Regions from separate parts of the Homo sapiens genome. Here region 2 is linked to region 1. Evidence: fine-mapped expression QTL. Tissue or cell type: prefrontal cortex. Region 1 holds a variant in brackets; the other region holds the start of a gene. All regions are shown on one strand. Distances are between the middles of the regions.

Region 1 (5,150 bases):
ATATAAGCCAAAGATTTAACATCTAAATAGTGACTATCAAGGGTAAAAGTCACACATATTTTTTATGAGTACACACAAACACAGGAAGTACGGTGACCAGGAGCTGAGGGATGACCCACTAAAGAATAAGCTCCGGAAACCAAAATGACTAGAGGCAGATGCAAAGGTGAGCTGCAGGTGGTCTGTATTTATCTGTGGAGCTGCTGGCACATGACGGTGATAAAAGTGCAGCATGCCATGGTTACCAGCTTGGACAATGCAGACAAAGAACAACCACCAGAGAAGTGGTAGGGGCGGGCAGAAGATGTGCAGGGGCCAACTGGGACTGGGGTGTCCATCAGCTAACTGCAGTATCAGGTACTATGGGGAGCCAACCAAAGAAACTAAGTGTTTGCTATAAAGGCATTAGGATAAAAGTGGAAAAAAAAGAGGAAGAAAGCCCTCTTAAATACCAAAAGGGTAAAAGCAAATAAAATAGAACAAGGTGGTTCCCTGTTATCTGTGATGTAAAAAATGGACTTGGCTCACCTATTAAATGGAAAACAGTCTTGGATTGGCTCACAAAGCAAAATCAAACACCATACTGCATATAAGATATACAGCTATAAAAGGCTGGGAAAATATATAGAGAATTTATAGGACTCAGAAAAAAAGTAACTGTCACAGGAAACTTTATAGCATTAAATACCTATATCAATACAAATTTAAATAATAAAAATAAATTATTTAAACATATAACTGAAAAAGCCAGAAAAAGAATAAGTGAACCAAAAGAAAGGGGTGAATTATTACAAATAAAAGCAGATATTATTAAGTAGAAAAAGAATAGAACTAAGAAGTAAATCCAAAAGCTGGCTCTCAAGAGAAAATAATCAACCAAAACAAACCACTAGGTATCTGATTAGAAAAAAAAAAAAATAAGAAAGTTACAAGTGCTAACAGAAGAAAATTTAAACATTGTAAAAGATAAGGAAAAGAAAGAGATAGAGAGAAAAACGTGTAGATTAAAAGAGACTTTAAAAACATATCAAATTTTAAGAATAAAACAACACTAAACTATAGTGTCTAGGGATATACACTTGGTGATAAAACTATAAAGATTAGGGAAATGATTACCATAAGAGTTTGGGAAGTGGTTATTTTTGGGGAGAGGAAGTAGGTTATAATAGAAATGGGACATGTGGTGGGCGCTTCTGGGATGATTGATAAAGTTCTATTCCTTGACCTGGGTGTGGTTACAAGGATGTTTCCTTTATAAAAATGAAGAAAAACATTAAAAAATCATTACAGGCAACTTTATAAAACTCTTTGCAGTAAGTTAGAAGTAGATGAAACATTTTTTAAAAATATTAAATTTAATGCTATTCCAATACAAAATCAAGTTTTTTTCTTAGAGCTAAACAAGTTAATTATAAAATGCATTTAAGAACAAGAAGAAACTATCCTAAAATTCATATGGAATGAAAAGAGAGCCCAAATAGCCAAAGCAATCCTAAGCAAAAAGAACAAAGCCAGAGGCATCACACTACTCAACTTCAAACTATACTATACAGCCCCAGTAACCAAAACAGCTTCTGTACTGGTACAAAAACAGACTCATAGACCAATGAACAGAACAGAAAACTCAGAAATAAAGCCACACACCTACAACCATCCAATCTTTGACAAGGCCAGCAAAAGCAGCAGTGGAAAAAGACCATACTATTCAATATATGGTGTTGGAATAACTGGCTAGCCACATACAGAAGACTGAAGCCAGACCCCTACCTTTCACCATATACAAAAATTAACTCAAAATATATTAAAGATTTCAATGTAAGACCTCAAACTGTAAGATCCTGGAAGATAACCTAGGAAATACTCTTCTTGACGTTGGCCTTGGCAAAGAATTTTTGGCTAAGTTCCCAAAAACGATTGCAACAAAACAAAATTGGCAAGTAGAATTTAACTAAATGAAAGAGCTTCTGCACAGCAAGAGAAACGTTTGACAGAGAATACAGACAACCTACTGAATGAGAGAAACTATTTGCAAACTATGCATCTGACAAAGGCCTAATATCCAGAATCTACAGGGAACTTATGCAAAAAACGTTCACTTTCTGTCTGTGTTCACGTCACCAAGAGAATAGAAAGGAAAAGGGAAGAATGCAAAAGTCAAAGACACGTCACCCTCCTTGAGACAGCCCTCCAGTCCAGGCCAAATCTCAGCCTGCCCTTGGTCCGCTGTGGTTGGGCCTGCACCCAAGCCATGAGCACACGCAGCAATTGTGGCAGCAGAAGCTTCCTCTGGGCTCAGACTCAGGCTGATGCTGCGTCAGGACCTGCCGCGGTCTCGGCTGGGCTTCCTGGGACTCGGTGGTTGTGGGCTGATTGTAAAGCACGGAATGACTCTTAGAAACTGGGCGTCATTCTTTGTGGTTTTCCAAGCTTGGTCTCTGATGATACTCCAGGTCTTAGGAGACATGCTGAATATTTATTATGCTTACATTCAAGCAACATTAACCCTTAAGGTTGATGTAGCTCCCCGTCTTTTTTTCCCAGAAGGAGGAGCACTGAAGGAACACTTTTCCAGTATGGATTCTTTCCAGCTCCGAGAAGCTGGAGGCACACGGATCCCTCGGCCAGCTCTCATCTATGGACGTGCTGTAGTCACAAGGACTGTGACTAAGGCTCAGTCCCTGAGGACTGCCTTGGCATGGGCTGCTTTAGGCTGTAAACACCCAGTTTTATCCACTTTATGTGAAGAAAGCCAACAAGGGGCATGGAGTGAGTTCCGCAGGTTTTAGCGGCTGCGGCGGCTGGTGCTCAGTGGGGATGATGGCGGGAAGGCGCCTCCCTCTGTGGGCCCCGAGGTCTGTGCGGGAATCAGCTCTGCAGCTGTGTCCAGGGG[C/G]AGCCGTAGACCACACACGGCAGGCTCACAGCTCTGTTCCATGAGAACTTTATACACAAAAGCAGACGGGCTGGGCTTGGCCTCTGGATCATAATCTGCTGACCCCTGGGTAAGAAATTTTAAATATTTACTTATTTCTGTTCAACAGAAGGGGTGATATACTGAGGAGTGAATAATGGGAAAGATCTGATTCGGCTGTATCAGGAAGGACTGGTGTAAATTCAACTTATTAACTGAATTCACAGTATTCGTGTTTTATGCCTTTAGGGGTTAAAAATGGGTCACACACGAGCAGCATGCACTTCACTGGCGTGGCAGGGCACCTCAGTGTTTACATGTGTGGTTCCCATGCTTACCAGGGCTGGAGGCCCCTGTGAGTAGTGAAGTGCATGTGGAGTTCTGGATACTTTTCCTGGCTTTCTCTATTTGTGTGAGCTTGTGCAGTTAGAGGTTTGGGCTGAATTTGGGTAGAAATGGGTGGCTCACAGGCTGCAAAAGTTCTGTGGACACTTTTTCCCCCAGCTGATTAATGTTGTAAATATTAGAATATTGTTACATAAAAGTCTGGATTTTTAGTTTCTTTCACATTGGAATAGCTGCCAACATTGGGCCTGCATTCATCTCTCTAGGGCAACGTCGGCTGCAGCTGAGATGGCTGCTCCCCGGTGGGGTGTGTGCTCGGCCTGCAGTCCCCGCCCTCCGGACTCCATTCGCCTCCACTCTCAGGTTTGCACCTCGTCATTGTCTTCTAATTTTGCATCCCTGGACTGCGTGACCTACAAGGCTCTCAGCACAACAAGACTCTATGATTCTGTCTATTGGAACAAAAAGCCAGTGAGGCAAGTGTATCATCCTGTTGATGAATTCACAGCATTAACTCTGGGAGTTGGGGACAGTGTGTATTCTTCCTCCAGACACTCTCTGTTTCTCCTGGATGGAAAGGTTCTGCTACTTGTCCCGTGGTCAGGCCCAGCCAATGGAACGGAATGGAAGTGACTCTGCCCCTTATTGGCAGAAACTTTAAAAGCCGCACAACGTTCCTGCACCCTCCCCTCTGCCATGAGCCTGGCAGTGCTCAGGATGGGAAAATTATCTCACCTGGGCCTGAGGATACAGGAGCTACCCCCAGCCTGCAGTGGAAGAGAAGCATGGACAAGTGATTAAACTTTGTGTTTTCAAGCCACAGAGGTTTTTTGAAGTTGTTTGCTACCATGCTTTGTCCCTACAAACACAGTCATGGAGAAGGCCAGTGGCAGAGCCTGAGCCGTTCGCGCATCTGTTCACCAGTATCCAGAATAACAATAGATTTTTGAAACATTCCTGAGAAAATTCTGGGAGTTGCATACCGGCCAGTCTTATTCTCTAAAGTTGTTCCTTCTAAAGGGTGTGATGACCGAAAATTTCAGAAAAGCAAACCACCGCTGAAAGGCAACGTTATTTCTGTTGGCAGAAGGCGGCCTGAGCAATCTAGATTTTCCACGGTTCACCAACTAGTTTTTAAGGAAATATGGCTGTGAGAGGAATAAAACATGATTCCTACCTTTAAGGAACTCAGAGAAGTGAATTAAAGGAAGTCACAGATCAGACAACCAACCACACAAAGTTTCTAAGAGCAAACTGTTCAGGTCGGCAAGTCACTCTTATCCACTGTTTTGCCTTCTAAGGTTTCAGTTACTCTCAGTCAGTCATGGTCCAAAAACATTAAATGAAAAATTCCAGAAATAAACAATACACACGTGTTAAATCATGTTTCATTCTGAGTAGCTTGATGAAGTCTCATGCCGTCCCACTCAGCCCCACCTGGGGTGTGACACCTCCCTCTGTCGAGCAGATCCACCCTGTCTATACTACCTGCTTTTCCAGGAGATCCACCCTGTCTAGACTACCTGCGTGGCCAGCAGATCCACCCTATCTACACTACCTGCTTTTCCAGCAGATCCACCCTGTCTACACTACCTGCCTGTCCAGCAGATCAACACTGTCTACACTACCTGCTTTTCCAGCAGATCCACACTGTCTACACTACCTGCTTTTCCAGCAGATCCACCCCGTCTACACTACCTGCCTGGCCAGCATATCCACCCTGTCTACACTACCTGCTTTTCCAGTAGATCTGCCCTATCTACAATACCTGCTTGTCCAGCAGAACCACCCTGTCTATACTACCTGCCTGTCCAGCAGAACCACCCTGTCTATACTACCTGCCTGTCCAGCAGATCCACCCTGTCTACACTACCTGCCTGGCCAGCAGATCCGCCCT
Region 2 (5,150 bases), 40 kb before region 1:
CAGCCTGGCCAACATGGTGAAATGCTGTCTCTACCAAAAATACAAAAAATTAGCTGGGCATGGTGGCGCGCGCCTGTAATCCCAGCTACTCGGGAGCCTGAGGCAGGAGAATCGCTTGAACCCGGGAGGTGGAGGTTGCAGTGAGCCGAGATCTTGCCACTGCACTCCAGCATGGGGGACGGAGCAAGGCTCTGTCAAAAAAAAAAAAAAAAAAAACAGAAAAAGAAAAAGAAAAAAGAATTAGAGACATCTGGATCAAATCAGCTGCCAGTCTCGCAAAGTGTCGGGTAACATCCTATTAAGCTTGCTGCTTACACATCATCTATAAAATACTGAAAATATCATTTTAAGAAATCTTTTTTTTATTTTGAGACAGAGTTTTGCTCATTGCCCAGGCTGGAGTGCAATGGTGCGATCTCAGCTCACTGCAATCTCTGCCCCCTGGGTTCAAGCAATTCTCCTTCCTCAGCCTCCTGAGTAGCTGGGATTACAGGCATGCACCACCACGCCTGGCTAATTTTGTATTTTCAGTTGAGACAGGGTTTCTCCATATTGGTCAGGCTGGTCTCGAACTCCTGACCTCAGGTGATCCACTGACCTTGGCCTCCCAAAGTGCTGGGATTACAGGTGTGAGCCACCATGCCTAGCCAAGAAACCCTTATTTTAAAACAAGCCAGGCGCGGTGGCTCATGCCTATAATCCCAGCACTTTGGGAAGCCAAAGCGGGTGGATCACTTGACGTCAGTAGTTTGAGACCAGCCTGGGCAACATGTTGTAACCCCATCTCTACTAAAAATATATTTTAAAAATTAGCTGGGCATGGTGGTGGGCACCTGTAATCCCAGCTTCTCAGGAGGCTGAGGCAGGAGAACCACTTGAACCTGGGAGGTGGAGGTTGCAGTGAGCGGAGATCACGCCACTGCACTCTAGCCTGGGTGACAATAGAAAGACTCCATCTCAAAAACAAAACAAAACAAAACAAAACAAAAAACCACTAAAAAAAAGACTCCATTTCAAAAACAAAACTAAAACCAAAAACACAACACAAATGTAGTACACAAATGAAAATAATTACTGTGTTAAACACAGTTTCATAGAAAATAAAAGACCAATCAAATACAATAAGCTGCCTTTTTAGATGGGTATGTTATTCTTCTTTCACAGCTAAAGAAACAGGCTCAGAGAATGTTATTTGATTGGACCGTGTTGCATTTCTGGACAGTGCAGCTGAGATCAGACTTTGTGTGTAACTCCACTAGCCTACCAGGGTGCCTCTCATAAAGCTAAGAAATGTAAATTTGGCCTAATATACAAAGTTGCCAGGGCAGCACTGGGTCAATTCTACATACAGTACTTCTATGTTCATCAAGGGAAACCTTAAGGGAAAGTGAAAATGCTTCTAGAAGGCGACTGGACACCAGCGCCTTTGCTTGTTGCCTTTGGGCTCTTCTTCTAAGGCCAACAGTGACCTGAAATTATTGACTGGCTTTTCAATCAAGTGGACAAAATGGTACCAAGGTCGGCAACATCAGACAAATTTACTTGAGGGCCTTATCTATGCGCTTTGAAAGACAAAACTGCTTTTGTAAAGGACACTGTATTTCAGAAAAACATAATCATATTAACAAATAATAACACTGTAAAATGCTGATGTGTTGAATGCTACTTTAGAAAAACATGCTCAAATCTAGGGAAAAAATTTGATACAAAACTACGTATCAATTATCTAGCTAGCTATCTATCTAGAGACATGCTTTCATTCTATTGCTCAGGATGGGAAGCAGTGGGATTATCATAGCTCACTGCAGCCTTGAGCTCCTGGCCTCAAGTGATCCTCCTGCCTCAGTCTCCTAACTAGCTAGGGCCACAGGTGGACACAGTTATGCCTGGGTTTTTGTTTGTTTGTTTTGTAGAGACAGGGTGTCACTACATTGCCCAGGCTGGTGTCAAACTTTGGAGTCTCGCTGTGTCGCCCAGGCTGGGGTGCAGTGGTGTGATCTTGGCCCAGTGCAACCTCTGCCTCCCGGGTTCAAGTAATTCTCCTTTATCAGCCTCCCAGGTAGCTGGGACTACAGGCATGCGCCACCACGGCCAGCTAATTTTTGTATTTTTTGTAGAGACTGGGTTTCACCATGGCCAGGCTGGTCTCCAACTCCTGACCTCAGGTGATCCACCCGCCTCGGCCTCCCAAAGTGTTGGGATTACAGGTGTCAGCCACTGAGCCTGGCGGAGCACTTTATGTTATTAAGTAGCCTAACCCAGGTGGGTCGCTGTCCCTCACGCCTGTAATCCCGACAACTCTGATGGCCAAGGTGAGAAGATTGCTTCAACTCAGGAGTTCGAAACTGGCCCGGGCAACATAGCGAGGCACCCCCCGACCCCATCTCTAGAAAAAAATACAAAAATTAGGCCAGGTGTCCACCGCGCCCGGCTAATTTTTGTATCTTTTGTAGAGACGGGGTTTCGTCATGTTGCCCAGGCTGGTCTCGAACTCCTGAGCCCAAGCCATCCATCCTCCCGCCTCGGCCTCCCAAAGTGCTGGGATTACAGTAGGGCCCAGCCAGCCTCATGTTTTATTTAGCAGTCCCTCCCTGTTGCACACCTGGATAGTTTTTTAAATTTTTTTAGACAGGGTTTACCTCAATCTCGCAGGCTGGAATGCTGTGGTGGGATCATAGCTCACTGGAGCCTTGAACCTTTGGGTTCAAGTAGCTGGGGGGCTGAGGTAGGACTACAGAGATGGGGTTGCGCCATGTTGCTAGGCTGCTCTTGGCCTGAAGGGTCCTCCCGCCTCGGCCGCGCCAGACATAGTTTTCTATTTTTGACCAACATAAACACTGTGCTGGGTCTGAATTTTTCAGCTACCCTTCTTCAGCCGGCAACACACAGAACCTGGCGGGGAGGTCACTCTTACCAGTCCCCACTCTGATGAGAAAACTGCCCAGCTCCAGGCACCATGGCGCCCCAGTGATGTAGCCGAACACCCGCGCCTCTAACGTCGCCAACGGCCCACCTCTATGGTGTCGGCGAAGACCCGCCCTTGTGACGTCACGGAAGGCGCACCCTTGTGACGTCACAGGGGACTACCACTCACGCAGAGCCAATCAGAACTCGCGGTGGGGGCTGCTGGTTCTTCCAGGAGCGCGCATGAGCGGACGCTGCCTACTGGTGGCCGGGCGGGATGTAACCGGCTGCTGAGCTGGCAGTTCTGTGTCGCTAGGCTTCTGCCCGGCCGCCGCCGCACATAAGCCACGAGGAGGAGCTTTACGACTTCCCGGTCTTCGGCGCCGGGCGCAGCAAGGGCCAGACTCTGCGCTAGCAGGCGCTGCGCGCCAACCGGCCGGCACCTGTCGCAGAAGGTGCAACCGATCGCACTGTCGCGCAGAAGCTCCTCAATGGCCAGCGCCAGCTGCAGCCCCGGCCGCCCACTCGCCTCATCTGAGCCTGGGTACGTGCGCTCCACAACGCCTCCCCCAGCCAGGGCCCGGGGATCCCCGGGAGCGTCCCCGGCTACCTGGCGCCGCTCATCCTGGGTAGGGTCGGCCCCCTGAGGCTGCCCGGCATGAGGGAGTTGCACCCCTGAGCTTGACCTCTGACGGTCCTTTGTAATAGCATTAAGTCTTTGAAACTTGTAGCGGGGTAGAAGGGGCTAGGAAATGAAGAAAACATCTTTTTAAAAATATAAGCAGTCGGCTGGGCGAGGTGGCCCACACCTGTAATCCCAGCACTTTGGGAGGTCGAGGCGGGTGGATCACGAGGACAGGAGTTCAAGACCAGCCTGGCCAGCATGGTTTCACTGAAACCCCGTCTCTACTAAAAACACAAAAATTAGTCGGGCGTGGTGGCAGGTGCCTGTAATCCCAGCTACTCGGGAGGCTGAGGCAGAGAATTGTTTGAACCCGGGATGCGGAGGTTGCAGTGAGCGGAGATCGCGCCACTGCACTCCAGCCTGGGCAACAGACCAAGACTCCGTCTAAACAAACAAATATATGTGTGTATATATATGCGATCGAGCCCGGGAGGTTGAGATTACAGTGAGCTGAGATTATATAAGCGATCGAGCACTGGAGGTTGATGTTACAATGCGCTGAGATTGCGCCATTGCACTCCAGCCTGTGTAACAGAGGGAGACTCTGTCTCTAAAAAATTATATGCAAGTGAGAGCTTTTCTTCCAGCACTCATGCTCAGACTGAAGAAAGTAATTGGGCCAGGCCCGGTGGCTCACGCCTTTAATCCCAGCATTTTGGGAGGCGGAGGCGGAAGTGGGTGGATCACTTGAGCTCAGGAATTCCAGACTAGTTTGGGCAACATGGTGGAACCCTTTCTCTACAAAAATACAAAAAATTAGCTGGACATGGTGGCACGCGCTTGTAGTCTCCGCAACTTGCCGGGCTTAGGCGGGAGAATCGCTCAGCTGCAGCCTCGACCTCCAGGGGCAATCCATTTCAGCCTCCCAAAGTGCTGAGATTACAGGAATGAGCCATCGTGCCTGGCTTTACACTATATTTTAACACTTTTTTTGAAAATGGAAACTTTTACAGGCAATTCACTTCCTTCAAACTAATGATAAGGAAGTGATGCTGTTCTGTTCTGTTTTGTTTTTTGTTTTTGTGGGTTTTTTTTCTTTTTTGAGATGGGGTCTTGCCCAGGTTGGAGTGAGGTGGTGCAAACAAGGCTCACTGCAGCCTTGACCTTCGGGCTCAAGGAATCCTTCCCCGTCAGCCTCCCCGGTAGCTAGGACTACAGGTGCATGCTACCACGCTTGGCTAATTCTTTTTTTGAAATGGAGTCTCACTCTGTCTCCCAGGCTGGAGTGCAGTGGTGCAATCTCGGCTCACTGCAGGCTGGTCTCAACCTCTGACTTCGGATGGTCCACCCACTTCTGCATCCCAAAGTGCTGGGATTACAAGTGTGACCCACCGCGCCTGGCGATTTTGCTCATTTTAGATACTAGAACTTTTTAATTTAAAATTTTTTTTTCCTGAGATGGAGTCTTACTTTGTCTCCAGGCTGGAGTGTAGTCGCGTAATCTCGGCTCACTGCAACCTCCACCTCCTGAGTTCAAGCGATTCTCCTGCCTCAGCCTGCCAGAGTTGCTGGGACTACAGGTGTGCACCACCACACCCAGGAGTTCAAGGCTGCAGTGAGC

What was found. PIP is the estimated chance that this variant, and not a neighbour inherited with it, causes the effect.
Region 2: it holds the start of LINC01409, and the variant in region 1 is fine-mapped to the expression of LINC01409 in prefrontal cortex (CommonMind, PIP 0.95).

What each region holds. Positions count from the first base shown.
Region 1 is chr1:815,204-820,353 of GRCh38, forward strand. FAM87B (family with sequence similarity 87 member B) reads left to right here and starts at 2,168. Exons shown (of 2, transcript NR_103536.1): 1 at 2,168-2,999; 2 at 3,520-4,631. RefSeq lists an enhancer at 2,183-2,282. The variant C/G (reference allele first, on the strand shown) is at 2,891.
Region 2 is chr1:775,645-780,794 of GRCh38, forward strand. LINC01409 (long intergenic non-protein coding RNA 1409) reads left to right here and starts at 3,154. Exons shown (of 6, transcript NR_187359.1): 1 at 3,154-3,448. It overlaps LOC100288069 (a long non-coding RNA gene), which reads right to left and starts at 2,990. Exons shown (of 20, transcript NR_168328.1): 1 at 2,640-2,990. RefSeq lists an enhancer at 2,707-3,276.